Linked DNA regions of Homo sapiens: regions 1 and 3 are each linked to region 2. The links come from fine-mapping of genetic effects on gene expression. A gene starts in region 2. Each other region holds a variant in brackets. All regions are shown on one strand. Distances are between the middles of the regions.

Evidence for each region. PIP is the estimated chance that this variant, and not a neighbour inherited with it, causes the effect.
Region 1: its variant is the best candidate, but not a certain one, in a credible set for the expression of JAKMIP2 in monocytes after LPS (Fairfax 2014, PIP 0.74).
Region 3: its variant is the best candidate, but not a certain one, in a credible set for the expression of JAKMIP2 in aorta (GTEx, PIP 0.74).

What each region holds. Positions count from the first base shown.
Region 1 is chr5:147,798,439-147,809,130 of GRCh38, reverse strand. No RefSeq gene overlaps it. Among named protein-coding and RNA genes, the nearest start is that of JAKMIP2, 21 kb to the right of the region's middle. The variant G/A (reference allele first, on the strand shown) is at 5,000.
Region 2 is chr5:147,776,614-147,787,305 of GRCh38, reverse strand. It overlaps JAKMIP2 (janus kinase and microtubule interacting protein 2), which reads left to right and starts at 4,578. Exons shown (of 22, transcript NM_001270941.2): 1 at 4,578-4,850.
Region 3 is chr5:147,746,231-147,756,922 of GRCh38, reverse strand. The region is part of intron 1 of JAKMIP2 (janus kinase and microtubule interacting protein 2); the gene reads left to right. Among named protein-coding and RNA genes, the nearest start is that of JAKMIP2, 31 kb to the left of the region's middle. The variant A/G (reference allele first, on the strand shown) is at 5,534.

The DNA of each region.
Region 1 (10,692 bases), 22 kb before region 2:
ATAAAGAGAATATGAAGTTGTGAAATACTATATATATATATAGTATATATATATAGACCTGAGGGATGTTTCAGCAAGTAAAGTATTAATGACAGAGACAAGAGCAATTTTGGAGAAATCAAACCAAAAAGCTAGAATGGCATGAGCTGAAGAGTGAATGGAAGGTGAAGGGGTAGAGACAGTGAGTAAAGATAACTATTTCAAGAAATCTACTGTGACAGGGAGTGGAGAAATGGATCTGCATCTCCAGGGAAATGTGGAGTCAATGGAGGACTTTGGAACTTTCCAAAGCATGTTTTTGAACTCATATTGGGCAAAGATGGAGAAATTGATGATGCAAGAAGGTAGGGGATAATTGTAGATGTAATATGACCAGGTTTGATGACTGGAAAGTTTAATCTCCCTAGAAAAGGTTTCACATTACTTTTTGTTGTTGTTCGTTTTTTGTTTTTTGTTTTTAGTTTTTTGTTTTTGTTTTTGTTTTTGTTTTTTTTAGACAGTCTCAATCTGTTGCCCAGACTGGAGTGCAATGGTGCAATCATGGCTCAGTGTAACCTCCACCTCCCAGGTTCAAGAGATTCTGCTGCCTCAGCCTCCTGAGTAGCTGAGATTACAGGCCCCCATCCACCACACCCAGCCAATTTTTGTTTTTTAGTAGAGACAGGGTTTCACCATGTTGGCCAGGCTGGTCTCAAACTCCTAACCTCAGGTGATCCACCCGCCTTGGCCTCCCAAAGTGCTGAGATTATAGGCATGAGCCACCATGCCCAGCCTCATGTTATTTTTTTTTTTTTTTTTTATAAAAAAGCTTTTGGAAGTGACACTGTGAGCATGCGCTGAAGCAGTGGATGCTACCTGAGCAGATGGCTGGGACTCCAACAGCACCTACTCCTCTTGCTCTGATGCTCCTCCCTCAAGCATACACCTGTGGCCTCACCTGAAATTCTTTAATTTCAGTTGACAGAGAAAAAAATAAATGGGTTGTGATTACAAATGGCTTTGCATATTGTGCTGGTGTAAGGCTAGAAATGCATGATGCAGAATTACAGCCCTATTAAAAGCTTTTGTGTTATAAAATGAAGAAAAGAGAGCCTCCCCTTTAGAATATCTTCTAGAAGTTTGATTGTTTTTTGTAATTTTTTCTGGATAGAGTTGGCTCAAGTTACTAATATATACTACTTCATGGGCTAGCCAGATCATCAGACACTTGGAAAGAACACAACTGAAGATTTAGTAACAAGGAGATCTGGGGAGAAAGTATATCAACTTTCTCAGAATGAGTATAGGATATAAGGATATTTGTGTTCCATGTGAATACTCACTCAAGAGTACCCACTGAAGAGGATGTTCTCAGTAATCACATGGAAAATGCTATGCTCTGCAGATGTCAGCCAGTCTCTTTCCCCAAGCACTCTAGCAGTCACTCAATCTGATGAGGTTAAAAATGTTCATGGCAGTAGGGATGAAAGCTATGCATTGGCTCAACAACATGGATTTCACCAGGGCTGACCTGGCTACCACCACTGCTGAATATCCACCTGACCATAGCTGATGCTGAGTCCTTCTACTAATAGTAGCATCATTCCTCAGGGGACTAGGCAGCTACTTGGTGTTAGGTTGATTTTACTAGACCCCTTTCCTAATGGTAGGATAAGTAACTTATCATCACTAAAAAACATAGTTATTTTGAAAATGGATTTCCCCTTTCCTGCACACAGTGCCTTCACAGATACTCTTGCAAAGGACTTATTTGGAATCTTCATATTCCACAGAACATTGATGCTTTATTAGTTTCTTATTGTTGCTGTAAAAAATTACCACACACTTAAGGGCATTAAACAATACTATTTTATTCAGTTACAGTTCTGGAGGTCAGAAGTCTAAAATTATTTCATTGAACTAAAGTCAATGTCAGCAGTACTGGTTTCTAGTTTCTACTGGAGCTGAGGGGAGAATCTGTCACCTTGCCTGTTTCAGTTTCTAGTGGCCCATCAATGTTCTTTGGCTTGCTACCCCTGTTTCCATCTTCAAGTTCATCATTCCAGCCTCTACTTCTGTCATCATGTCACCTTCTCCTCTCCCGTAGTGGTACCTCCCTCTGACCCCCTCTTATAAGAACACTTGTGACCAGGCGCAGTGGCTCACGCCTGTAATCCCAGCACTTTGGGAGGCTAAAGCAGGCAGATTGTGTGAGCCCAGGAGTTCAAGACCAGCCTGGGCAACATGGTGAAACCCTATCTCTATGAAAAATATGAAAATTAGCCGGGCGTGGCAGCGTGTGCCTGTAGTCTCGGCTACTCAGGAAACTAAGATCGGAGGATCGCTGGAGGCCAGAAGGTGGAGGCTGCAGTGAGCCGAGATAGTGCCACTGCACTCCAGCCTGGGTGACAGAGCAAGACCCTGTCTCAAAAAAATAAAAATAAAAAAAATAAGAACACTTGTATCATTGGGACCACACAGACAATCCAGTATATTCTCCTCATCTCAAGATTCTTAACTGCATATGCAAAATCCCTTTTGCTATATAATATAGTACATTTACAGGTTTCAGGGATTACTAGGTAGACATATTGGGGCATCATTGTTCAGCCTACCACAGCTAGTGACCAATGAATGTATTCCATAGAAAATAAAGTGGGTCAATGGGCTGACACTCATTAAATTTACTGATCTTGCCATGTGCTCCATTATCCAGAAACACTCAGCTCTGCGGAGCATTAGAATGGCCTACTGAAGATGTAGTCATACTACTTTCTGACCGAAAACATCCCCCAACCAGCCTGGAAAACATAGTGGGGCCCCTGTCTCTACAAAAATGAAAAAACATAGTCGGGCATGGTGGTGCATGCCTGTAGCCCCAACTACTTGGGAGGCTGGGCGAGAGGATCACTTTAACCCAGGAGGTTGAGGCTACAGTGAGCCATGTGTGTTCCACTGCACTCCAGCCTGGGTGACAGGGCAAGACCCTATCTCAAAACAAACAAACAAATAAACAAACAAAGACATCCTTCAAAGATGTGATGCTGTCCCAAAGAATGTGGTATATTCTTTGAACCACCAGTCAAAATATGATGCTATTTTTTTTAATAATTGCCAGATTTCACAGTTACAGGAATCAGGGGTTAGAAGTATACTCAATGACCAGCTTGAAAAATTTCAATTTCCTGGCCCTATAAATTTAAACTCTGCTTCTTTTAAGGTCTTAATTCTGAAAGGAGAGCACTTCTACCACATGACATGATGGTTTCATCGATCTAAAAGATAAGACCATCACCTGGCCTTTTGAGGAATCCTCATGTCACTGAAGCAACAGCCAAGGTGAGGTAACTGATCTCTATTAAGGGAAAATACAATGTTCTCCACAATGGGACATGTTGACAACATATAGAACCCAAGAGATTCTCTGAAGTGCTTCCAGTAATAAAAGTTAATGTAAAACTATAGCAACTCAACCAAAAGGACTACTAGGGGCTCAGACTCTTCAAGAACTAAAGTTTGAATTACACCACTAAGTAAATAATATCAACCTGAGGAGGACCTGCTTGAGATTAAAGGAAACATGAGGCTGGGTGCATTGACTCATGCCTGTAATCCCAGACATTGGGAGGCCAAGGCAGGAAGATGGCTTGAACACATGAGTTCAAGACAAGCCTGGGCAACATGGCAAGACCCCTGTCTCTACAGAAATTTAAAAATATAGCCAGGCATGGTGGTGCATGCTTGTGGTGTCAGCAACTCGAGGGACTGGGGGGGAGGATCGCTTGAAACCAGCAGGTTGCGGTTACAGTGAGCTGTGTTGTTCACACCACTGCACTCTAGCCTGGGCCACAGAGTGAGACTCTATCGTTAAAAAAAAAAAAAAAAGGAAGCATAGAAAAGCAGAAGAGGAAATTGCAACTATCACCAGAAGCTGATGATCTGTTAACAACCAGTCATAGAAATGATGACTGCAGTTACACATGATTTATTCCTCGTCTGTTATGCAATATTTGTGTATGTTAATCAGCTGTTTCCTTTTTCGTCTTTCCCTTTCTTATCCTATTTTACATATAAAGTGGGATGATGGCTATTGTGCAATTTAGTGTTTAAATTACAGAATATCCAGAGTGACAGCTTTTCTGTTTGTATGCAAAATTGTTAATTATGTTAGGTAAAAGCACCATATTGTTGTGATTGTTGTTGAATGAAATTTAAATAAGGGTACAAGGGAGGCAAATGGACACTGTATAAGCAGCAGGTGAACTATGTTGACTCTATGTCTATTAATTGCCAGCTCTACCCCTACTCTGTAATGCTCTTTTCTGAATAACTGGCAGAAATGGGAGCCTGAAAACCATTTTTTCCAGGTTTCATTGACAGTGGAGTCTGAGAGAATATAGTATAAAAGAAGAGGGAAACCATTTTATTTTCTATTATTAATGGTACATCAAGATGTGGCAGCAACATCAGTAGAAGTGTAATCTCCTGACTTTCTGCTCAGCTGCAATGGTATGAATCCAACTGAAGAAGTAGCAGCAATGCATTCAGCAGCAACAGCAGGATCATAAACTCCTGCATTTCCTGCTCAGCTGCAGTGGTGTGGATCCAGCTGTAAAAGCAGCAGTCATGCATTCAGCCGCAGCAGCAGGAAGATAAACTCCTAACTTTCCTGCTCAGTTGCCCGGATGCAGTTTCAGCATCAATGGCAGCACCTCCAGCAGACAGAGGGCAAGGGCAGCTAGGCTTCAGTCCAGGTTCAATCGCAGCTTCCAGTGTCTTTATAACACTCTTCTTTTTTGTGTTCTTTCTGTGTTTCTAAGAGCACTGTAACCAATTGTCTGCATTAAATCCCTCTTTGCTTGAAATATTTAGAATGACCTCTGATTTCTGGGCTTGGCACTAACTGACATAGATATGAATCTCTCATTTATATAATGTGTAATAAAACTATTTTCCAAGGTTGTTTGCTCTTTCTAGTCACAATTTTCCACGCTAGACTGGAATATTGTTTGGGAAATTG[G/A]GCTGACCATCTCACCCAGAGAAACAGTGATTCACAATGAAAAAGCAGTCATGTGATCTTAGGCAAGTTAAAATTACCCTTCAGGGTAAGTGTCCTTAAAAGTGAAATAATGAATATAAGCTTGTCCAAAGAATTAAAATAATTATGTAAACTGAAGTATGCAAATTATTTGCTTATGAAATTAAATGGTTTAAGAAAAAAAGAATCAATAGAAGTGAGGCTGTCTGACTGCTATAAGGGATTGGATGTTTCTATCTATTCTCTTCTTTTGTCCCTCTTCTCTAACATCTCTCTTTCTCTCTCTCTCATTCACTTTCTCATTCTCCCTCCCCTACTCTCTAATGAGACCTCTATTATTCTAGAGTATTTTGCACCTTTTTTTCTACTCATTCTCCCTCCCTGTATTATGGCTCCATTCCCAGAGAGACATAGTTCAGTATCTCCCTCCCATGGTCAAGGTCACTGACAATGTAGTCCCATTATCCCAACATCTGAATCTACAACTAAAACTTAGTTTACCAGACATTATAAGCATGATCTGTATTAGTCTGTTTTCAGACTGCTGACAAAAACATACAGAAGACTGGGAAGAAAAAGAGGTTTAATTGGATTTACAGTTCCACATGGCTAGGGAGGCCTCAGAATCATGGCAGGAGGTGAAAGGCCCTTCTTACATGCCAGTGGCAAGAGAAAAATGAGGAAGAAGAAAAGTGGAAACCTCTGGTAAACCCATCAGATCTTGTGAGACTTATTCACTATCATGAGAATAGCACAGGAAATACTGGCCCCCGTGATTCAATTACCTTCCCCTGAGTCCCTCCCACAACACGTGGGAATTCTGTGAGATACAATTCAATTTGGTTTCGGTGAGGACACAGCCAAACCATATCATTATCTGTGCACATTCCCCTGCCATGGAAAGAATAGAAGTTCCAAAGTCTATAGAACTGCAATTCAAATGTAATTCAATTAACTTGGAATTATCACATATCATTTAGTTATCTGGGAATTTAAGTACCAGGGATAGGTACTTAAATACAAATCTGGGAAGCTCTGAAGGGGATGGTTAGGCAAGTTATTGGTCCAAGCTGAGGGTGAGGGGTCAGAATCCTATCTGAAGATGAAGCTACTGTGTTGACGGATCCTAGAAAAGGAGCACCACTCCCCTTCTTTGCTCTGCTGAATCAGAATCCTCTTAAGGAAAGAAAAAAAAGGTTGAAAAATTAAAGAATGTGGTGGAACTGTGAGATAGTACAAAGAGGGGATGCTAAGTCTGGAGAAGGAAGAAGAATGCCAATGATGCCTTCTCCTCATCCAGAGACTCCCTAACCCTGGCTGTTACTGCTAATGGGTTGTCCTTTGTGACTCCAAAGGCATAGAGTGCCAAGATATTCAACCCTGCAGCAGCCTCCTCTATGGGACTACTGCTGATCATAAGCATAACTCAGCAAAATGTCCCAATCATAGGGGATCCCTGGATGAACTGCTCCTTATGTTCAACAGATAAAATTCTACATACAGTGGAATGGGAGAAAGGGCCACTGCCCATTAAAAAAGAAAGCACAGCCATCAACAGAGGCAAGGATGTGGTACTGGGAACTGATGTCTATTGGCATCTCCTGCTTATACCATAGAATGGTGATATAACAGAGCTTCTCAAGGGCCGGAACAGAGGAACACGTAAGGCATGGGGAAGCAAGCTTAAGCACTGGGGCAAGTCATCTTCAAGGAAGATATTGTTCTCAAAGATATCATTCCTGTGGTACAGTTCTCATTCATTTCACATCTCTATTCCCAACACACTTCCAAAGACTGCCCCAGTGTAACATATGCAGTTACTTCTCTGCGTAAGTCCTGCTTTTCCCTATCGAGTCTTACCACGTAAAGCTACAGTTCTATTGCAAGAGAGGGAAGCACATCTCTACAGATTGTGTCTTTAAGAACTAACATAAGTATTTCACCCATCTGACTAGGAAGGAGGAGGCTTATCAAGTGATAGTTTTATAAATCTAGATAGAATTTTTCTCTCAAACATTCAGAGTCAAAGGCCAGAAGTTACTTACCTGATGTAAAGTACTTTCAATTAAACATACTGGAGACAGACTTGTATCAATGACATTAAGTTATGAATGATAAAAGAGAAATAATTCAACATCTTCTAAGGAACATGTGTGAAATACTCCCTTGGAGTGTCACCAAGCCAGGCTAGGACAGAGAGTTAGGCCTCCAAACCCCTGAGCAGCACTTGCTTTCTTGAGATAGCATTATCTGGGGATCAGTTTCAGGTGGGAGGCAAAAAGTTAAGGAAGAGTTTGCCACTATGGCAGAATTAGTTTAGCAGTGGGAAGGTCTACGTTTTGGTCTCAAGAGAGGAAATTGTGAATTTACCTAGAAAGGGTGAAGTTTTACCCAGCAGATAACTCTGCCCTTTCCTGTAAATTTACCTAGATGGGGTGAAGTTTACCCAGCAGATAACACTGCCCTTTCCACTATGACCCATGTAACCTGGACAGCCCTGTATTGCCCAACACAAAGTTACTCTTAGAACATAGAAGACCTAGGCAGGAAGACCTGGTGGTGTTTATGATGCCCACTGTGGCCTTGACACCAGCTAACCAGAATAAGAGAATTTTAGGGACCACTCCTTTTTCTTTCTTTGAAAAGGAAAACAGAAAATTGAGCATCAATAGAAACATCAGCCTCTGTCCTTCCTGACTTCTGATGTCTACCCTTGGACATCCATGAAATCCCAAGCTGTCTAATTCCCCTTGGAAATGAAAAAGTAGAGAGGGGTATACACTTAAGTTTCTTCGGCATGATGCCTCCACCTTATAGGAACCGGTTAAACATCCCCAGGACAATCATCAGCAATTGCCTTTGGATACGTAAGGATTCCTAGGATCAGTTGCTCCCCCTGAACTTGAAGAGATCAATTTATGTGTAAGAGAATGAAAAGCACATATATAGGGCCATCAAGGACAACATTGGCCAGAAAATGTAAGGTAAGGGCCACAGTAAAACAAAGACGCATTCAGGTAGGATTTCCCGGGCTCACATCATACTCACATCAAGGTCAAGGCTATTTTTAGTGTTCCCTTCCCTTCATCTCAGCTAAGGTCTGTAATTCTCACTGCCAAGTCCCAGGTTCATTTAGGCATGCACTTGATGCCGCTTCTAAATCCTTATCTTTACCTGTTTATCTTGCTGTTTTCTCAGTAGTTGTGGCTGGATGTATCTGCTGTCCCAGGCAGACCAAGTTTAAGACATGTACATTGGTCTCCCAGATCAACTTAATTTAAATGGGTATGTCCTCCTTGCTACACACAAGAGGATTTTGAATTGATAATCGAGGAAAACTGGAGTCACTTCTCCTAGGATAGAACTCTGCATTTATTTGCTCAAAGCAACTGGTAAAGAATGATGGATGAGCCAAGGTTTTCATTTCACCATATGGAATCAAAGGAGTTTGCATTCCTTGTTGCTATGTCTCTCAGTCTGTAGTCAACGGAAAATATATTTCATTAGAACAAGAGGGAGCTATTTAAGTTACCTCTTTTATGTTACTATTTATGTTAGATCATAAATCAATCTAGTCTTTGATATAAAATCTAGTATTTCTAAAGCCATTACGTAAATACAAAATTACCAATTTTCAGTGCTTAAACCAGGGATGATGCATCTATACTAAAGCATATGAGAATTTTCTTTTTGTCAAAAATACTGGTTCTCAGGCCTTTGAGATTACTTTAAATATCAATGGGAGACTTTGACTAAAAGGCTTCTTTTTAAAGATTTGCATAATGTTGTCTGGATGGTATTGCAGAACCTGGATCCTGCAATCTGCCCCTACCTTTAACTTGTTCCCACCGTGTTTGCTTGCCTTGACCTACTGGTTAGTCCTGCTCTCCCTGCCATTTTCACTGGGATTTTTCTTCCTATGTGCTTATTTGTAGGAAACTCTTCTCCATTTCAGACAACATATTCTAAATGCTCTTTACTGCACTATACTTGAAGAATGCTCCTTTTAGCATGGACTGGTCTAAAAATTATATCAGTGCCAATGCAGTAAGATTTATAAGAGGATGGAAAATGCAGAGTTTGGCTCTTTTTAAATTCTTTTATGTAAGTAGGCTCTACAAGACATTTGAACTATACTTTACTGAAAATAATTACATCAAAATTTGGTCAACAATGCAAATTGTTGCTGGACCAGGGCCAGGGCTAAGATGATACCCCAGGCATTCAAAAACTCAGCTGAGTACTCCTGTCACATATGAACCATGAAGAAGGACCTGCAGAGTCAAAGGGAGAAAACATACATCTCATCTCCTATCTCTTCTAGTGTCTGCTTTACTTATTTACTCTTAACTGTGTGCATTTTCTTTATTCAGTCATTTATTGGTTGGCTTTATCCTCTTGGGGGAGTTAACCAATTACAGAAACAAAACTTTTATTTTATCTGATTAGAATCAGATTATGCATTTTGGTAGAAATACCTCAGAAGTGATGCTGTGTCCTTTTGAGTGCATGATGTTAAGGAGACACAGGGCCAGGCGTGGTGGCTCACGCCTGTAATCTCAGCACTTTGGGAGGCTGAGGCAGGCAGATCACCTGAGGTCGGGAGTTCAAGGCCATCCGGGCCAACATGGGGAGACCCCGTCTTTACTAAAAATACAAAAATTAGCCTAGTGTGGTGGCATGCACCTGTAGTCCCAGCTACTCAGGAGGCTAAGGCAGGAAAATCACTTATCACTTGAACCCAGGAGGCAGAGATTGCAGTGAGCCAAGTTCATGCCACTGCACTCCAGCCTGGGCGACAGAGTTAGATTCTGTCAAAACAAACAAACAAACAAACAAACAAAAACAAAAAAACAAAGAGAGAGAGATATATAGGATGTCTGTTCATTCTACTCTTGGTGATGTTAACTTTGATCACTTGATTAGAGAGATACAGTAGCCCCCTCTATCCCCTAATCTGGGGGATATGTTCCAACAGCCTCAGTGGATGCCTAATGCTGCAGAAAGTACTGAACCCTATATATGGGCATACTTTAGTGAAGTTACAGGTTTGGTCCAGACCACAATAAAGTGAATATCAGAATAAAGCAAGTCACAGGAATTTTTTTTGTTTCCCAGTGCGTATAAAAGTTATGTTTACATTGTACTGCAGTCTATTAAGTGTGCAATAGCATTATGCCTTAAAAAAACAATGCGCATAGCTTAATTTAAAATATTTTGTTGCTAAAAAATGCTAATGATCATCTGAGCATTCAGGAAGTCATAATTGTTTGCTTGCCTCGATACTGATGCTGCTGACTGACCAGGGTGGGAGTTGTTGAAGGCTGGAGTGGTGTGGCAATATTTTAAAGTAAGACAACAGTGGAGTCTGCCACAACAATCGACTCTTCCTTTTATGAAAGATTTCTTTATAGCCACCAATGTTGTTTGAAAGCATTTTACTCACAATGGAACTTCTTTCAAAATTGTAGCCAATCCTCTCAAACCCTGCCACTGCTTTATCAACTAAATTGATGTAATACTATAAATGCCTTGCTGCTATTTCAACAAGGTTCACAGCATCTTCACCAGGGGTAGTTTTCATTTCAAGAAACCACTTTTCTTTGGTCATCGATAAGATGCAACTCCTCGTCCTCATCTGTGAAAGTTGTATCATGAGATAGCAGGAATACAGG
Region 2 (10,692 bases):
TGCTACCTGACTCACAGCTACATCTCTGGTACCTAGTAACAGCACACAATAGAAACTAGCAATAAACATTTCTTAGATTAAGTAACATTAAATGAATGGATGAACTTTAACCTTGACCTCAAAGGCTTGCACTAAAATAAGAAAGACAAAGGAAAGAATATTTACCATTCACCGTGTTAAGTGTAGTTAGGATGTGTCACAGTACAATGCTAACCCTGGTATCAGTGAAGATCCCCTGAAGGAGTTGATGGATACATTTTAAAGGTTGAAGAATTGAGGCAACAAAGGAACCTCAAGAGGAAATGGACTGAGCAAACACAGAAGTGTCTACTTGTTATGCAAGGAGTCATCTGTAAGATCATTGGCCATAAGAGTGTAGAGTTCATAGCAGAGTTCTTCTAATATATTTGCTTACTGATACTATTGATAAAGGACATACAGTGAGGTCAGAATGAGATCCTTTATTCTTAGCAAACTCAAGAAGACCCTTACTGCTTACATTTAATGTTCTCTGTAAATGTATTACTATATTAATATAAATGTATACTATATTAATAATCCTTTATAAAGGAGGCAGGGGATAAACAACAGTCACTTATGAATGCCTTTGTTTTTGCCCCCTTTTTGGGGGAAATCAGGCTTTTGACTAAGTGTGACATAAGCGTCTCCAGAATTCCTCATTATCTGTTGACAGCTGGTCTGCAGCCATTAACAGCAAGCTTGTAGAATAACCCCAAGTGATCTGAGTGCTTTGGAAACATCCAGAAAAATGTGCTAGGCATAACCATAGTTAATAAAATTGTGTTTATAACCATATTGATATGACTTGTCATTTATTACGTGCCAGGTACTCCTTAACATTTTGCACACAAAAACTTCAAAAACGACTCAATGGGACCAAAGACTTCCAACAACCCTAGGAGTGAGTTTGGACTCACTTAACTCAGCCAAGCCTTCATATGAGATGGCAACCACAGCCAACTGTTAAACTACAACCTCATGAGAGGCTTTGAGCCAGAAGCTCTGAGCTAAGCCACTCCCAGATTTCTGCCCCACAAACACTATGAGATAATAAATGATGTTTCAAGGTGCAAACAAATCCCTCAGAACAATAATTCAGTGGGGTAGGTACTGCTATCATGTCACACAGATAAAGAAACTGAGCCACAGAGGAATAAAGCAACTTGTCCAAGGTCACTCAGAAAAGAAATGGTAAAGCCTGGACCCAATCCAGGTAGTCTGTCTCCAGAGCCCACACTTTGCAGCTTCCTCCCATTATGCTGTGGTATCTCCTGAAATTTTAATGCCACTTTTGGAGCCAAGACCCATACCCTGTACTTTTTCAGACATCCCACAGAATTCAGAAGTCAAAGTTGTAAAAGTCCCAGGAGAGGCAGACAGTTTGGTCATAATTAGTACTATTGGCCAAGAAGCTCTTAGAAGAAAATCAGGGTTTCCCAAAGAACACCATGCCTACCCACTGAGGACATGTTAGATGACTTCGAACATACGTGAGCAAACATGTTTACTTTCATAACTGTGTATTTTTAAAATCTGTGTCAGATAAACATTACGTTAATATGCATGTGTGCTAGATGAGGTAATTAGTATAATTATCTAAGTAATTATGAGAAATATCAACAATATATCTGAACAAATGATACTATATGTATTATTTTATTTTTTTATATATATATAAATTACAGAGCCATGATTCAATGCAGATAGTTATTCTTTTATTTATTTACTGGTCTATTCTTCAACAAATATTTATTGAGCACCTAATATGGCCCAGACACCATTCACAAAAAAACACAGAAATAAAAATCCCTACCCTCTCGTAGTTTACATTCTAATAGGGAATAATACAGTATATTACTAATATACAATACAGTACACATTATAGTATAGCATGCCACATTAAGCAATGTTATATTATCCCATAGTATATTATTCATATTAATTTTATATATAGTATATAGAAAAATAGAACATGGTATGAGAGGGGATGGTAATAGAGAGGTGAGAGTTTTAATGTTTCTTTTTAAATTAAAAATTATTATAAATAAAGTTGAAGTCTTTGTTTTACTAAAAAAATTAAGAATTTGTTTTCGTTTCCTTCATATGGGTCCATTATCTTTACCATGTCAATTTTCATTTATGTTTTGCTGAAGTCAGAGAAACATTTCATTAAAAAATGAATAAATAGCAAATCAAGTAAATCATAAATAATTAAAGCAAATAAGGGAAAACTATTATTAAATAATGATAACAGTGCTGCCTGGACGTGACCAAAAACAAATGAGTAAGTTGTATTTGAATGGTTAAACTGGATACTTCTTCAGATAGGAAACACCAAACTTTTCTCTTACCAATTGACTCTTGACCAGCTGTTTTATGTTGATGGGAGGAGAGGAAAAACTAGAATCACCCACCCCTAGACATTTGGCTCCTAGCGCTAAGGATGAAATGCTGTCCCGAGGACAGTGTGGAGGGTTCTGTCATCTAGTGTGTCATAACTTCTACAGCCTGCAGCTTCCTGGTCTGCTTACTTACAAGAACATCTCTGCAGAGAAAGCAGAAGATAAAATACAGGAATACAAAAAGAAGCGAGATGATCACATCCCATTCCTTTATGTTACACATTACACATAGGTGATGCTGACTTGGAAGTGTGTGCAGGTTGTGTGGCTGCTGAGACTTTGACAGAAGGCAGGGGACACTAGCTGCACAAAGGAGGTTGCAGGCTTTCCCACCAAGTGGATGGAAAGCCAGTGTCACGTGCTGGGGAACTGCTGCAACTCTTTCCTCATCACCTAGTTATCTTCAAGCCAGTTTTATTAGAAGAAGCCCCTGACATTAAGAGTGACACCATGCAGGAAAAAGTCTTCTCATGTTTTAATATTAGTTACTTACAAATGAGTAACAAGTAACTGTAGCTACATTTATTGAACATTTCCTATCTGCTAAAGACCGTACATTTTACACACGTCATCTAGTTTAATTTTTGTAATGACTCATGAGGTTCTGTGATTATTTCTTTTTACAGATGAAGAAACATAGATTTGAGGAAGTTAATAAATATGTTCCAGATTATACCTATAGTAAATACTGGCGCTAGGAATGGAGCCTAGATCGTCTGACTCTGGAACTTGTGTTAAACCCATTTGAACCTGTAAATAACTCTGTGGATTAAGAACAAAGATTATTTCCATTTTATGGAGGAGTGGCAGAAAAGTGTGGTGGTTAGGAGAGCAAATGTAAGTGTTAGAAGAGTCCATTTTGATTCCGGTTCTGTCGTTTATCAGTTGTGAATTTGGGAAATGTATCTAACTCCTCTGAGATTTACAATGTCCTCAAATATCAAGATGTAGAGAACACTTAATCTCTTAGGGCCTCTCTGTCTTTGCCATCATCATCATGGTTATTACGTACTTTGGATTTTCTCATCTTAATTTTTTCTCCTACCTGAAATTGCCATGTTATTCCCCTTAAACCCTTAGATTAAGAGATGGCTGCAATGTACTACTATGCTGCTAATAGTAAATATTTATTGTACACTTACTATATGCCAAGTGCTTTTAGTGCATTATCTCATTCAATCTTTACAACCCCTCCACGAGATAAATACTGGTGTCATCTATAATTTATAGTTAGAAACAGAACTCGCCTAGAACTGGACATTGCTGATTTCACTTCCCCCTTTTCCTGCCCACCACCCTGACTGCCAACTGACTTCGGAACTCCAAAAAGGCATCCATGAAAACGACAGGAATTGCCTGCAGGAAATTGAATGCTCCAGGAGTTTGACACTAAAAAGATTGGGAACTGTCCACCAACTTGTGCTACCGAGAATAGTGGTTGTTGAAAGGAATTTCGGTCTCTATCCAAACTTACTTTTCCTCAGGGATGTGTCAATTACCTCCAAGTCCTGTTCAGAAGGGTAGCTGGAAAAACAGTGAAACCAAGTAACTCACCTGAGAACAAGCCGGGAGTAGTGCAAAGGAATCAACCAGACTCTTAATTTATTACAAAGTCCAGCCACTCCGTTTGCTTTCTAAAAACCTTGTTGCCTGGTATTGAGTAAAAGATGCTATAAAGGACGAACACGTTTGGAAGTAATAATAATCTGCTATTATGCGACATAATTTTCTCCACATTTGTTGTTATTTTTCTGATAATAAATTTCATACTTTTTATTGGAAAACCACAGAAAATGCAAAAAATAGCTAAGCCGTTGGTATGTTTCTATCTAGATTTCAATTAAATTTTAATTATTCTCTCCCCGTGCCTAGCCCCCCTTGCCCCATTTTTAAAAAGACCTGGAGTTCAGGGTAGGAGACATCAAGAGCATCCTAGAGGGCAGCAGCACAAATTCACTCCCCTCCAGACCCTGCAGCTTGCTTCGCCCATCTCCCCTCCCCCTGAGCTTGGTCGCTTATCATTGGTCATTGCCATGGCAACCAGCAGCTGCCGGGCCAGCAGCCTCTACCGCAGCAGGGGTGGGGCACTGGGGGAGGGGGAGAGAGAGAGGAGGAGCCAGAGGAGGTGTCTGCTGCAAGTTCCTGGCTGCTTCCGAGCTCACCCCATCCTCCGAGAGGGAGGAGGCCCAACTGGTGATGCTGCTGCTGCTGCTGCTGCCGCCGCCGCCGCCTCTATTGCTGATACTCTAGTGGGGCTGGAAGGGTGGTTCCTATTCGCACCATCGCCAACCAGAGACAGAGGGAAAAAAAAAACCGGCAGCCACTGCTGATGTTGGGTTCGGAGGCTGCATCCGACTCGGTCACAAGGAAAATGGATTCAGTTTGCATCTCTCCCTCCTTTAAACAGCTTCTCCGGGTCTCAGCATGGTGAGTAGGAAACAGTAGGGCTCCCTTCTTGGTTTAGAGTGTTCTTATTTGACCTGTGTATACATTTCTGGCCTGAACTTGAACAATGACTCCCGTGCCTCAGACTAGAAGGGGGAGATGTGGAGACAGAGATGAGGATGGAGGGAGAGGAAGCTTGCCAGGAAGAGAGAAGTGAGAAGACAACCTCTTGTGTTTAAAAAAAAAAAATGGTGTTCTGATTTTATCTCTAACTGGCTCAGAATGCAGACTGAGCCACTTGGTGCCTTTTTTCCTAAGCTTAGCAACAGCATCAGGGGTTGGAAAAAGAGCTAACAACAAGAAGAGGGTGTTATTGAAAGGAATCATTTCATTTGCAGCTCTCACATACAGGGTTGGGCCTTCTTCAGAAATACATTTGGTGTCTCATAAGCTTACCAGACTCATTATAAGGTGGTTTTGCTTATTTTATTGATTGCTTAGAAAAAGTGGCCCCAGAATTTGACATTTTATTTTATATTCTAATATACTCTTGTTGAGAAATCATTTGCAAGACCCAGTTTTATTTTATACGTAGATTTGACTGTGAACTTACACATGTATATCTTATGGATATACAGATCATATATACACATGTCACTTAGCATTTATATTGCATTTATGAAGCATATTTATATGTAGGGTGTGCTTTGCAACCATTTTTATGGGTTACATATGTCCTTGCATGCCTGGAAGTAATTGCATGTTTTTGAAACTATGCTTCTGGTTTATATTATTATTCATTGGCTTTATTTGGATTAATGTGAAATTTACTCTGGTTATTGTCCCTTAGTTTCATTGTGACCGATTGGAACAGATGCCTATCGTTTGATCTGTGTCATAGAACTAGATGCAAATTTGTAGCCTGCCTCTTTATTTTTAATTGGGTTTGTGGGGGATGATATTGAGGACTCTGAATTTACAATGATGGGAATGGGAGGCGGTTTGTGGTATTATTTTGTGTCTAGCATCTTACCAAATCAATGTTGAAGCAAATCAGTTTTCTTGAAATGCCACCCCAACCTTTTCATGTTTGTGCCTTGTGTCCCAGGAAGCACAGCTAAGCTGGAAGGTGAAATGTATTCATTTTATTTAATAGTGCTGCTATCTGATGTTCATTCCTTCAGTATCCAGGAACCATTTCACAGTTCTCTCAGATGTTGTATTAAGGGTCTCCTTCTGTAAATAATTAAGTAGGAAAGTAGGATTGTTTTGAAAATCTAGGTATTCCCAAGCACCCTAGCCCAGCCGTTTCCAAATTAGTCTGCTTATACAATGAAATGAAACCAGAGAGTGAGCAAAGCGAGCAGGAGAATGTGTGGCTTGTAGCTGAAATGGGGGTCTATTGTAATTTACAAATGCTTACTGGGATCTGCTTGACCTTTTATTATGTCAAGGCTTTAAGGCAGTTCAGGAGACTAAAGATGCGTGAGATGAGGAGGTTCCATTCCCGCCCAGGATAATGGATTTCATTGAATTAAAGCCAGAAAAAATTATGTAGGTAAAGTGTATTAGTAATATTACATTTACCACATGGGCTATTATAGTTTTATCCATTATTCTCTTCTCTAACAATATCATTGTCAGTACAGACATTTTTTACAATGTAAAATAACAATTGTTTGGGTCTTTAGTCTTGCATCTGATTCTACATACACCCCCCACATTTATAATTTTCACATGTATTTGAACCAGGTTTATAGTTTAATTTTGCTGAGAATAATTGTTCTATTTGGTTTATACATGAGAAGGGCCCTTGGTGACTCAATTGTGCATGTGCTCATAGCATGTTATATATTATAGATCCATAGCTTTGTAAACTCATGCTACTTTGTGCCTAATTTTAACAACTATATGAAGTAGGGCAAGGAAAGAGGTACTGGGCTTGTATGTTATAACAAATTGTATAACACATTGCATCCTGAATCTTTTAGTGATAACACTTGACTTCCAAAAATTAAAATGTTAGATATGCCTATAGCACACTTAAAAAATTAAGATTTGTACTAGTTGACCCCATTTCATGCAATGAAAGCAGATATCCTGGGGCTTTGTTTTTGTTTCTTTTTTTTGAGTTTTCATTTGGAGGTGGTTTTATAGGCAAAGTTGGTACAGTTTGAACAGAGGCAAATCCCTTAGGCCATGTGCTTAAAACTCCTTGTAGATAGCCTGTTTCAGCTATGTGTCAGCTATTACCCTGATAGAAATACAGGTCTAGCTTTTGACCCCACTATTTAAGACAATTATATGGCCTTTGCTAAGGGGCCATAGAAAAGTGAAGTGTGTTTCAAGCACTAGAAGTTGAACTCTCTGAGGAAAGATTTTTAAAAGCTAGGATCATTTCATTTAGAGAAGAGAAAAATGAAATATGGCAATCGTTTGTTTCAGATAAGCTAAGCATGGGGCATAAGCACAGGACATTGCTTATTGCTATTTTTTGGAACCTCAAATGTAGTCAATGGGCTTCAACTTTATGAGGAATTATGAAGATGAGAAATATGCAAATGTAGAAGTTCCTCATAGTAAGTGTGAGTAGTCAACTGGCTAATCAGATAAAGCAATGAATTCTTCTCTCATCAAAACCTCCAAAAGTATGACCTAGATATGCATTTGTCTAGGATGTACTAGATTTCCTTCTCAAGAACTTCTCTTGCTTTTTCTAGAGTGAGTCATTTATTTGAGAGAGTACATTAGTTGTTTAAGATAAGACACTTCTAGGTTATAACAGTAAGACTCCATTTTGTAGTTGACTTCTAAATTACAGGTTCTAGGTATTTGTAAAGAAATCAGCTGATCATCTTCTTAGAGAAATTTACATGTAATCCTGCCAGAATTCAGGAAACTGAACATTTACCTGTTCATAAGAGCCCTTCTTTCTCAGCAGCTTTATGGAGTATGATGTCAAATACCTATATTAAAATTATTTCATATTGTATAGTTAATTTTGAAAAATGTACTGTGTTATTTAATGGGGTCTTTGTACAAAGTAATTCAAGGGCCATCAAGTTGTTTTTTTTAAAAAAACAAATTATATGAAAGGTATATACAAATTAATGTTTAAATGTGCTGTTTAACAAACTAATCTTCCACTCAAATGCTATCTTAAAAATGTCATTCATGTTAGAATATTAAAGTTAAATATTTTGATTGGTATGTAAGTCTTTAGTAAAACTTGTTTTAATTAAGACACACTAATTAATTTCTCACTTTGTAATAGGATGTTTCTTATTTCAAGTGACATCAGAACATATTTTGATTTTATGTGCCTGCTACAAGTCCGCTTCAGGATGACTTAGGCAATATTTGGAGAGTCTAACAGTTTTCTACATTTCTTTTTGGTTCATGAAAAGTCAATGCTTTGTTTCTCATGGTTGGAGCTTACTGTGGAAGTTTTAACATAAATAACGCAATGATGGTCTTTTACTGAAAGACATAAATTAGGTTTATACTTGGTTGTTACTCTGTGAAGTGTGTTGCAATTCCCTGTTTACACATTCCACTATTATTCTATCAAGGGAAAATGTGCTTTCAAGCAGGATAAATTAATAAATTGACTAACAACTATTTGTAGAGGTTTTATATGACTAGCAGCATTTGCGTATGCTAGCAAGAAAGAATTTCCTTGGAGAATATAAGATATACATCCATGAAACAGTTAATGTTGAAAACAATATAGTTGTAATTAGTACCATCACTTCACCTTATATTATTACAAGTTTTTATGATTCTGTCATTTTTCCATTCTTTTTCATTTTATATTCTATCAATTTCAGTTTATATTCTATCATTTCAATTCTATCATTATCAGCAAAGCTAGTGTCGTAATAATTATTTAAAATAAGTGGAAACAGATTCAGGGAGGTTAGACTTGTCCAAATTTGTGTTTGGTGAGTGGTGTAACAGGCTGGATCCCTAGTCTCATGAGCACAAACTACAACAGTAGAAAGGTAGCAAATTATCTTACCAATTTGAATTTTAATTGGTAAGATAATTTTAATTCAATTTACTAATCTGTGTTGTGTGGCTCATTTTATTTGAATATTTCAGGTACCAAAATTTGTTCTTTGGCCATATTTAATTGCCAAATACACTAACTATGTGCTTAGGGTATCAGGCAAAAAAACAAAAAACAAAAACAAAGCAAAACAAAACAAAAAAAGGCTCACACACACAAAAAGCATTTTAGAGAAAATCTAGGCTTCTTGATATATCAGAAAAACGTAGAAGCATTTGTTTGGGTGAAAATCAGAACTTTGTTGGGCTAATATGCACTTATTTTATAGATAAATATTGTTTTTGTTTTTAATGACATAGAGGTTGGGAGGTGACCATTTTTTTCCGTGTTTAGGATCTGATTAAAATTCCTGTAGGTCCTGAATCTTGAAAAAAGTTATGCCACCTCCTACCTATATGTCCTAATTATCTCTCCACCTACACATTCTTAAAAGTAAAAATGATATTGTCATAAAATAAGTGTGCATCAGTTCAACGACTTTCTGATATTTTCTCTGAACAAATTCTCCTACATTTTTCTGAACTATCAAAAATATTTATTTGTTTTTCAAATATTCTAATTTTCTGGTGTCTCTTTTTCTTTATTAATGCCCTAGGCACATACTGGTGTAAGTATTGGGTAATTCAGCCCTGGCCAAATAGAAAATCATGGCGTCTGAACTGTATTCTACATTTGGAAAAAGTGTCCTTTATAATTAATTAGCTTGCAGTAAAAATGGGACCTGTCACACTAAAAAAATTATTCTTTAAATCATTATTCATTACTACAAGTAAATTTTGTTGCTTAAAGTTTTTTTTATATTTAAAAATAACACATCCTCATTATGGAAAAATGATAATACAGAAATGTGTAAAAGGAAGATGAGAACCGCTCATAAGCCTACCATCAAGAAATCATTACTGTTAGCATTTTGGAATATTTCCTTTTAGATCTTTTTGTATATGCACATAGAGACACATGCAGACACAGTTTCATACATGGACCATACTGTATGCATTGTTTTATATTGCTTCTGCTTTATGTATAGTGGCCATCTATCCGTGTCAACAAATGTGTCTCTACTGAATTTTAAATTTCCGCATGCATTTTTCTTGACGATTCAAGCTGTTTTTCCCCCACTTGAGAGTGTTCACACTTTACTTTTAAATACTTCTTATGATACAGATAGATCCTGCTTGATTTAAAGCAGTCGTGAGTCAGGCATTATATTCAGGAAATATGAACTCTGTTAACCTGACCTGCCACTGCATCTTACAATGGGTATTAAATTAACCTTGGTCATTCTTTGTCTGCTGATAATGAATGAGGTCTGAATCCAAGGCAGTGAAATCCCTGTTTGAGTCACTAGGAGTTTCACCAGGTGCATATATCAGCAACAATTAGAAAACAAAAACAAAAACACATCTGTTTCAGATTCATGTTAGTTTTCCCCAGTGTTGTAGTGGTATGTCGTGTAGTTTTATTTTTTAATTTTTAATTTATTATTATTATGATTTTTGAGATAGGGTCTCACTCTGTTGCCCTGGCTGGAATGCAGTGGCATGGTCTTGGCTCACTGCAACCTCCCCCTGCTGGATTCAAGTGATTCTTGTGCCTTAGTCTCCTGAGTAGCTGGAACTACAGGTGCTCACCACCGTGCCTGGCAAATTTTTGTATTTTTAGTAGAGACGAGGTTTTACCATGTTGGTAAGGCTGGTCTTAAACTCCTGACCTCAAGTGATCTGCCTGCCTGGACCTCCCAAAGTGCTGGGATTACAGGCATGAGCCACCATGCCCAGCCTGTCCTGTAGTTTTAACCTTGGTTAAGCAACT
Region 3 (10,692 bases), 30 kb after region 2:
CAGCATCTAGCACAGTTTACAGAACACAGACAGTACTTTGTAATTGTTGATTTTTCATGTCCTCTGTTCTTTACCTCCCTACTCTGCACTTCTGCTGTTTTGTTCTCTGTTGTGCACCTGTGTTAACAGATGGTAAATCTGGAAACAGCAGCTACCACATGGGAAGGGTAGAGCACAGGCTGTTTATATTGGCAGGCCCTGTAGGAGGATAAATGTGAGTAGCCCTGCACCTTCTTGGTGACTTTAGAGATCTGCAGCTACCCATCCACCCTCCTTTTCTTCTCTCAGTGTTTGTTCTCCCTTTACCTGTCCCAGTCTGCATTGAGTGGAAAAGAATTCCCATGAGCAACAGTCTTAAAGAGATTTACTGGATGTTGTTTGTAAAGCTTTTTGAATTCCTCAAACAAAAAGAAATATAAATACAACACATCATGCCGAGCAAGGTCTTTCCTGTTTTAATGTCTTATAACCATGAGAACTTTTCATGAACAAAGGCTTTTTGAATAGCTCAGAAGGTAACGTCTGCAATAATTCTAAGGCTGGGTGGTTAGAATGCTCTAATTTGTGTGTGTACCAGAGTAAGGAGTGAGGGCAGGTGCCTCCCTATCATTTTTTTAAAACTGACCTTTACTGACTTAAATGATTTCTCCTGTAAAGACAACACAAATACAAGTTGTCTTTGATAGAATTCTTCTCTCTGATGCTTCAGTCACGACATGAATCTATAAGGTGCTTTGAAAGGAATAATAATTCTTTCAAATAATTGTACTTCCATTTAATTCATTATAGTCAAACTATTAGTAATCAAAGAGAATATTCCTTTTTGAAAAGAATGTAAATATTCCTATTGGTCCCTTCCCTTTGCACTGATATGCTCATTTATTTCTCATGCTTTCACATGGATATTTGCAAATAACCTGTGTTTCTTTTTGTTAGAGCAATACAGGATATACATATATATGCAGAATAAATTAAATGATTTCAATTTTCATTGTGGCTCTTCAAAGGGTGTGTGTTTAATTGACTTATATCCTAGTATCATGGAATGCTCAGAAACCCCTAGTCATTCATTATTTGTGTATGGACTAGTTACTTTCAAAAAAGAGCTTGGGTCATTGGCATGGACCAATAGTCCCAACTATGCCGGTGGCTGAGGTGGGAGGATTGCTTGAGGTCAGGAGTTCACTATGAAATGCACTATGATTGCTCCTGTGAGTAGCAACTGCACTCCAGCCTAGGCAACATAACGAGATCCTATCTCTAAAAAAAATTAAAAATAAAAGTTAATCTGCCTTGGTTAGTTTTCACCAATTAACAAATACAAATTACAGAGGTACTTGGAAGAATGGTGCCTAACATCAAATTAAACGTTATTTTTAACATCCGTGTATCACTATTGTGGGTGTTGCTATTATGTCTGAACGCAAAAGTATCTGAGACAGGCATCAATCAATTTAGAAAGTTTATTTTGCTGAGATTAAGGATGAGCCCGTGACACAGCCTCAGGAGGTCCTGATGAAGTGCGCCCAAAGTAGTTGGGGTACGGCTTGGTTTTATTCATTTTAGGGAGACAGGAGACATCATTTTATACATTTTAGGGAGACATGAGACATCAATCAATATGTATAAGATATACATTGGTTCAGTCCCAAAAGGGGGGACATCCTAATCTTCTTTGTCCTCACTGCCAGTATCCTTATTTAAGACTGTTGTCTTTTGTCTGGATTGTTTCAATAACCTCCTAGTAGATTTGCCAGCATTTAATTTCTCCAAAGCTTTGTTCAAAACTCTTGGATTTGTCTAATGAGTTCATTCTTGATCTTGTTATTCTGATTCTTACAAGCATCCCAAAAGTCCTTGATACCTATGGAATAACGCTCCAACTCTATAGTCATAAAATCTGTACCCAGTTTACTTTGCAAGCCTTACACTGAAATATTCACAGCTGCTCTTCATGTGCACACCTACCCCCAAAGCTCCTTGATGCAAGCTCTCTTCCACTCATAGTGGCCTAATCTGTAGTCCTCAAACCACAATATTTTATGTCCACATGTTGCTCACCCTACCTTGTGATAGCATTTACTGTTTAAAAGCCCAGGCTTTCAAGTTATATAGACTTGGAATAGAATATAAGTTTTCACAATAATTAGCTATGAGGCCCTGGATAAATTACTTCACCTTTCTGGGCCTCACTTTCTTAATATGAAAAGTGGAGACTGAAAACCCAATCTTAATTGGGTTGTGAGGAATGAGTTATGAGTGCAATAATACCTCACTCACGGTAAACTTTTAGTAGCTGTTTGCTTGTATCACCCAAAATGCAACTCTTATGACTTGAATTCTGAAACTCTAGTCATCCTTAAAGTGAGAGCTGAGTTGTAACCTTTCCTCTGTAGCTTTCCTTAAGCTAGACTTCTCTCAGCTCTGCCACCATGTCCTCATTGTTAATCATCCTTTTATCTTAGTTCCCAGGGTATTTTGTAATCCTTCTATTATAGCATGTGTCTCGATATATTATTTTTATGGGTCTTCCTCCTCCACTGGAAAGATAGTGCTCCTGGGCAGAGGCAATGGCTTATTTGTTTTGTATCCTGGGGCCCAGGACACATCCTGGCATATAATAGTCATTCATTAATTGTTCACCAGATTGAATTTGTTGGACACTTCAAACATCCTCTTGCTTTAAATGTTTCTCCTTGTTACAAATTAGAGGTTGTTGTGCTGAAAATTGAAAAGATAAGCCAACGATAGCATTTTAATCTCCCTTTTATGAAATTATTTAAGTTGGAACCATCAGTAGAGTAACCTGTCACCATAAACCAAAGGTAGTAACAAGAATTGAATCTTTAAAAAGGGGGAGGAGAAGCATTTAATATCTTTAATTCTAAAATCACATGGTTTGTTGGCACAGTGATGTCAGTGATGTCAGTGTAGTTGCATCATTGCGTTAGGAGGACTACAGGAATTCATTAGCCACTCAGACAATATGATTTGGAGTTTCACTCTGGTCATCATCTGAAAATGGCTACAGTGTTCCAGACCAAAAAGTAAGTGCCTAGTGGAACCTTTAGCTATTATAAGAAACATCTTTAGCAAAAAAAAAAAAAAAATACATTCTGCTGAGCACATAGGCACAATGTGTTACACCAGACTCACCAATAATATTTACTAAGGGGTAGATTAGCTTTTCTACCACAAGGAAGATGGTTAGTACACTGAGGAATGTGTGAGTGGTAGTTGCTAAGACCGAATTCTTTAATGCCTGATCTAGAACAATGAGCAGGCATTAAAGAATTTATTTTATGTTTAATGGAGAAACTTCATATTTATCAAATAAACTGGATTTTCAATTTCTCTTGAAAAATCAGACTTGACCATATCGTGTGGTTGCATTTGCACAGAGCAACGCTCGGTGGCAGCTGAGGAGCCATTGCTCACTTAAGGAAGGTCATTGCCTTGCCAGTCACCATTATTCAGTACATGGTCCCCTTCACACATTCATATTTCCTGACTCAACCCTGTAGGAAAGGCATCTGTGCTTTTCATCCTTTCCTCTAAGCCTCAGTTTCTAAATCTGTATGTAGAATTAATATAGCAGCAACTAGCTTGAGGAACTCTTGAAAAGATTAAGTAATGTAACTTGTATTAAGTGCCTTACTCAGTTCCTGATGCCATTGTAAGTTCTCAGTAACCGGTTACTATTTCTTCACTTCAAAACCAATATTTATTGAGCTTCTACTATGAGTCAGGTGCTGGGGTAGAGACGGAAATCTAATTTTGAGCAATTAGAGGCATGGTCCCTGCCTTGAGAGTTTGTGGTTTAGCATCCAAGGAAGTGCCAGCTATAATGCCATTGGTCACATGGCTTTTGTTTGTGTTATAGAATGAGGAGGAGATAAAAGTCATTGGGTTGCTTTGCAATTTCTTGTGCTGGACTGAGAAAATAACAACAGAGAGGCCCTATAAAAAGGCATTTTAAACTGAACATTCTCCAGCAGTCCTTCATTTTCACTCTTCCCACAAAGCTGCCCCTCCCCCAGAACTCCCCATCTCAGCAGATGGCCTTCTTATCCACTCAGTTGTTCTAGCCAAAAAGCTAGAAATATTTTGAGTCCTCTCAATCCTCTCCTCTATCTCCCTTGATGTTTAATTCACCAGCAAATTTAGTTGTCTCTTCTTGCAAATCATGTCCTAGATCTCTCCATCTCCCCATATCTATAGTGCCACCCCGCACCATGGGCCAAGCCATCATCACCACCATCACTTCCACCAAGGATAACTGCACAGCCTCCTGCTGCCATGCAACCAACTTTTCCTCCAAAGGCCCAGTAGCAAGTATTTTAGGTTTTGTGGGCCTTAAGGTAGGTCTCTGTCACAACCACTTAACTCTCCTGTTGTAGCACAAAAGCAGCTATAGACAATATTTAAATGACTGGACATAGCTGTGTCCCAGTCAAACTATTTACAAAAGTAGGCTGCAGGCTGGATTTGGCCTGTGGGTCATTGTATTATAGTCAGGGTGATCCTTGTTAAAATGAAATATGGTCATGTCACTCACTTAACTCTAACCCCTGCAATGATTTCTCAGGCACTAAGTTTACAGTACTCAGTTTGGTCTGCATGGCCTAGTTGATCCAGCACCCCTTTTGGCCCCAGGCACTCCATACTTCATCCAGATTTTTAAACAAAACGAGGTAATTCCCTTGACAGGGCCTCTGTACTAATTGCCTGGAATTCGCCTTCCCCATCTCAGCATGACTGATTCCTCCTTATGTATCAGATGTCATCCCTGAGAGAAGCCTTCCTGATCCCAATGCAGACTCATTCCAAATGACAACTTACAGTCATCCATTCCTCTATTTTATGTTCTTTTCTGTAGTACTCCCCATCATCAGAAAGTCTCTTATTTATTAATTTGGTTGCTTTTATATGGTAGTCTGTATTTTCATACTAGTTTATAAGCTGACGGCAGACTTTGGCTATTGCTTGACTGCTCTAACCCAGATCCTCAAAAATACTTTTTGGAAGGGAGAATAAACAGATGAGTACTCTCTATCAGTGTAAGCCACAGCACCACTTAAGCCTGCAGTCCTACAGAACCTCATCCATCAGGGCAGGCCACACCTTTATGCCACCCTCCTTGCCCAAATGTGCCAAGTGTGGCTGGCCTAAGGAGATGGAATTGTAAAAACTTTTTCGACCAGAAAGAATTTCAGAAGGAAAAAGAGTAAAATTCCTCTAACAAAGAGCCTGTGTTATTGCTGAGCGCACACTGCTTTTGGCTGTGTAGCTGGTCTTTGTCTCCCTGTGGCCCTGTGCCCTTGCTTAATGTCTAGAGGGAGGTACTTATGGAAGAGACTCCTAATAAAGACACTTTACAAAACAAGGGTTATGTGAAGGGGGTGGGGGGAGGGGGAGTAATTAATTTTTCTTTTTGTTTAAAGTAGGAAAGCCAAACTACATCTCCCAAACACACCACTTGACTTGAAAGAGATACAAAAGTCCTTTCTCTTAAAAGTCATCCATGTCGGGC[A/G]TGCTGGCTCACGCCTGAAATCCCAGCACGTTGGGAGGCGGAGGAGGGCGGATCACGAGGTCAGGAGATGGAGACCATCCTGGCTAACATGGTGAAACCCCATCTCCACTAAAAATACAAAAAAAAAAAAAAACAACAACAAAAAAACAACTTAGCCGGGCCTGGCGGCACGAGCCTATAATCCCAGCTGCTTGGGAGGCTGAGGTAGGAGAATCACTTGAATCCGGTAGGCGGAGCTTGTAGTGAGTGGAGATCATGCCACTGCACTCCAGCCTGGGCGACAGGGTGAGACTCCGTCTCAAAAAAAAAAAAAAAGTCATTCTGACTTTTAACAGGGAAAATATAACCATCACTTGTATAGGTGGATGGGAAAGAATTTAATACAAATGTTAGTGGATGATTCTACTTGGGCTGCCGCAATAGAAAACCACAGACTGGGTGGCTTAAATAGCAGAATTTTTTTCTCAACAGTTCTGTAGATTGGAAGTCCGATGTCGAGGTAATTACAGGGTTGGTTTCTGGTGAGGCCTTTCTTGCTGGCTTGCCAATGGCCTCCTCTCTGTGCACTAGGAGAGAGATCTCTGGTGTTTCTTCCTCTCTTGATAAGGATACCAATATTATCAGACTAGAATCCCACTCTCAAGACCTTCCTTAACCTTCATTACCTTCTTATCTCCAAATACAGCCACGTTGGGATCGGGGTTAAGGCTTCAACGTATAAATTTTGGGAAAACACAGTGCAGTTCATAATAGAAACCTTCAAATGCTGCAATTTCATGTAATATAGGTTTCTTTTGTGTGTGTGTGTGTGTGTGTGTGTGTGTGTGTATTTTCTGGCACCATGAGTGATATCTTCCTTGGGAAATGGGTGTGCTTACTCATTTTTTCTTATTGGCCTTCAGACTTTACATCAGTCTTAATCTTGCAGCTCTTAACAAATTAGAGATGAGAGTCTCTAAATAAGTGAGTATAACATGTGATCTCTCCATGAGACTGGAGAACAAAGGAAAACCCTCCCCATGGGGCCTTTATCACACATCTTAACAACACAAAGGCGTCATATGAGGATTGTGTCCCTTGGGTTAAGAACGCAGCTGTTTACCACAAAATGGCCTCCTTCCTGCCATTTCTCACATGCTTGGCCCTTTCAGAGCACCTTTCCCAAGTGAGTGTTTTATTTTCTCTTCCCTCATCTTCACTTAAGTTTATTTCGCAATGGTTGTGATCTTTCCTGAGGAAGATATTAGATCTAGACGTGTAATTGCTGGGATGATAAGGAGCTATTCTGTAATTATTTGACTTTTTAAAAATCAGTTTTTATTTATGAAGCAAACTTGCTGAGTGCTAACCATGTATGAGTCATGATCCCAAGTAGTTTTCATGAATATTCTTTTAATCCTATCAACAAACCTAAAAGGGAAATATTATTCTTATCTTCTATTTATAGATGGGGAAACTGGTTTGGAATGGATAAGTCAAACCAACAAACAAAAACATTTATAAGTATGGGGCAAGATAATCAGCTCAATCCAATTTCAGGGCTGAGCTTCTTAACTATTGCAACAGTTTTTTCTCATTCATTGTTCATCCATAAAGGAACTGGACTCAAGCCTCCTGCCATTATAATTTAAAGTGTTAGCATATATGCAAAATATTTTTATGCACCATTTGATTCTTTATAATCCAACTTCCAATGTGACATTGAATTCAGTCCAACATTTATTAGGCATCCACTACTTGGAAGACATTTCTAGGTAGGCGATGGTGTATAGGGCAGGGTCCTACTCTTCAGGTGACTGGCAGGTTAGCAGGAGTGTGTGATATATGCACAACTCACAGAGTGTCAAGTGACACAGAAGTAGCTACCACTAAGAGAACTGGAAGAAAAGAAGAGTAAGGGAATAGCTTCCACTAGGCAGGATGTTGTTTTAGGTAAGAGCCAGGGTTTGACTTCTAGCTCTGTCACATGTAAGCTGTGTGACTGAACAAGTTTCTCTAAAGCAAAGTTTCTTCCTCTATAAAATAAGGATTAAAAAGGGTTCCTTTTGCTCATTCTGCTGTAAGAATCAAGTAGGATAATGCATGAGTAGTGTTGAGTACTATGCCTGGCACATAGTAAATATTCAATAAATGTTAGTGAATTTTTTTTTTTTGCTGTTATTGTTTAGCCCTAAGGAAAATTCCTAGATCAAAAAGACAACCAGTTTGTCTATATTGCAGAAAATAAGAGGCTTCAAATTGACAAATTTATATGTGTGTTCTAGATGTCACTTATCAGCCATGTAACTTAGGACATGTTTTCAACCTTTTTGAGCTTCAATTTTCTCATCTCTTAAGTGGGAATGAAGCGGCATCATTCATCTGAGGTAATAACCGAGGTTCGTTGTCTCATGCCAAGGAAACCAACAATGCAGACACACGAAGAGTGAGGTTAAGAGTGGAGGTTTAATAGGCAAAAGAAAGAGAAAACCTCTGTCTTCCAGAGAGAGGAGTCCCAAGCAGGTCTTCTGGTTCACAGTGAAATGCAAGGGGTTTTATGGATGAGCTTGGGGAGGTGGTGTCTGATTTAGATAGGGCACAAAAGATTGGTCAGACCAAGTGTGCTATTTGCATAAGGTATGAAAAACTGGTTAGGGCTAGGTGTGCCATTTGCATGGCCACCCCCACCCTAAGCTTTTATTTTGCAGATGGGTTCTCTACCTGGCCAGTGCCAGGTTGCCTGTTTCTTTATTGTACATGTGGTGACAAAGAAAAGGAAAGACAGCATCTCCATGTTGAACATACCTGGCCCTCGGGTAGCCCTTTTCTATTGGCACAGCTGCCAGTATTCATCTGTGCAAACTTCCAGCTTGCTTATCTATGTCTGCAGCTCAATTTTTCAAGCTGCTCTTTGTTAGAAAAGAAATGATTTGGGGCTGCTTTTTGTTAAAAGGGAAATTCTGCCGAGGATTCTTTTACCCTCGCTATCTACCTAAATAATTTCCTTCTACCTCCTGTATCAGGAATAATGATGACATCTACCTTGTAGCATATTGTGAGGTACTATAATAACAGCATCAGGTATTTATAATTAGAATTGGCCAGAAACTGTTCTGTGGGATTTATATATATATATTATTTCACATATTCCTCATAGTAACTCTATTTGGTATTAGCTGTATTATCATTATCCACATTTCACACGTGAAGACACAGAATGTCAATAAACATCCAAGCTCATACAGCCAACAAGAAGTAGAGCCAGGATTTGAACCCTGGCATTCTGTACTCTACAACATTATGTTATACTTTTATCATTTTGTGAGATAAGTCTATGAAACCTTTAGCAGAGTGCTCGGAATAGTCTCAGCATTCAGTCATTCAGTCAATGTTCCCAATTATTGTTATCAATAATAAAGTATGGAAAAATGGCCCCTCAGAACAGGCAGCAGATGAGATGCACCTTGAAGAATATATGCCAGCAAGTCAATAGTTAAGCAACCAAAGTTTTGAGAGGATTTTTGTGTTTACACATTCTAGACAAAGTAGATAGCTTATGCAAAGATACAAAGGCAGGAAAACACAGGGCATATAGGAGAGAACAGTGGGAGTTCAATTTGGCTAGAGCATAGCATGAGGGAAGTAGTCTGGAACAATAAGCCTAAAAAAGGTAGGCTGAGGTGAAATGCTGGGGCAGTTTAAATAAAATGTATGGAATCTGGTGATTCCTTACATTCTTACTGATTCTGAGTGGACAGTCTCTCAGGTAGTAGTTTTGATGGCACCTGGAAGATGGTCTGCGGGACACAAGAGCCTGGGAAGGAGAAGACTAGTAGCCAGCTATGGAATTTGTTTATGTGACTTATAATGGGGTCCTGAGGTAGACCAAGTGGCCCTGAGACTGCATCAGATCAGAGTCAGCTTCTTTCTATTTAGCTATATCTTTGACAGTTACCAATTGTTATTGCTTGAATCCTCATGTTTTCAGGCCCAGCTGTGCCCGTGTTGTAATTTTTAATCTTTAACTGGTTTAATTTACCCTCAGAACAGACACTCTTGCTGGCTAGGTAGAAGTGACGTTTTAAGCATTTTTCTTGTAGGGATGTTTATATGTGTGATGATTTCCACCTTTATCCCCCACTGAGAAATGAAGAGCAGATCATTTCTGTGGGTTGATTGCCTGGCCAAGCTCAGTGGAATGGCTTAGTACTGGTCAGCCTTCTCTGGTTGCACCGTGGCACTGCCAAAGTTTAAAGGAATCTTGGTTTTTCAAAAAAGCTCCTCATGACTCATTGGGTTAAAAATAATAATAATAATAAAGCACTATGGTATGTGGGAGAGTGGGTGAAAGACATTCGAGCTTACCTGATCATCAGTAAGCATTGGACATACAAACAGCTTTCTCTGCATGGAGGGTTGGTCCCAGAATTTAGGAGAAAAATTCACTCTCCTGCCTTAAAGCACTAACTTATGGGCACTGGCTTATTTGGTGACTTCGTTTTTTAATTAGCAGAATAAATAGCTTAACAATGTTCAAAGTTATAGGAATCATTAAACAAACTGTGTTAAAGGAAACCAGTGGACTACTAGGTCACCAATTATAAAGTTAAATATGTGAATAGTAGTAATGTTTCCAATGTTACATATATGAGAATTTCTGAGTAATAACCATTTTTAGAAAAATGAAAGTGTATATTTTAATACTAATGAATGAATGAGGATACTGTATAAAAATAGAGGAAAACACAAAGCTGTATAATTGATTGATGTTTTGGTGAGTATTTAATTCTACAGTAATGGAACAAGCTATGTTTCTGGAGTACTTTCCATGTTTCAGACTCCATGATAAATGATATATAAATAGAAAATTTTATAAATTATATATTTTATTTTACATATTTGCTATTTATGTTTTGTATATTATATTTACATATATTCATTTGTTTATATATAAACTCTAGTTTATAATGCATAAGGGAACCTAAAGTCCCAGAAGGGCAATTGGCCACAGAAAATTGTTCTGAAGTTCTATCTTTGTGTTAACTCTATTCCCGTCTTTCGTCCATGAGTACAACCCAGGTCATCGAGCTTTTTCTGGGAGAGAATTTGATGAGGGAATACCTCTACTTGGCATGTCTGAATGAAAGGCCTTTAAGCATTTCTGGAAGTATGGTAAAGCC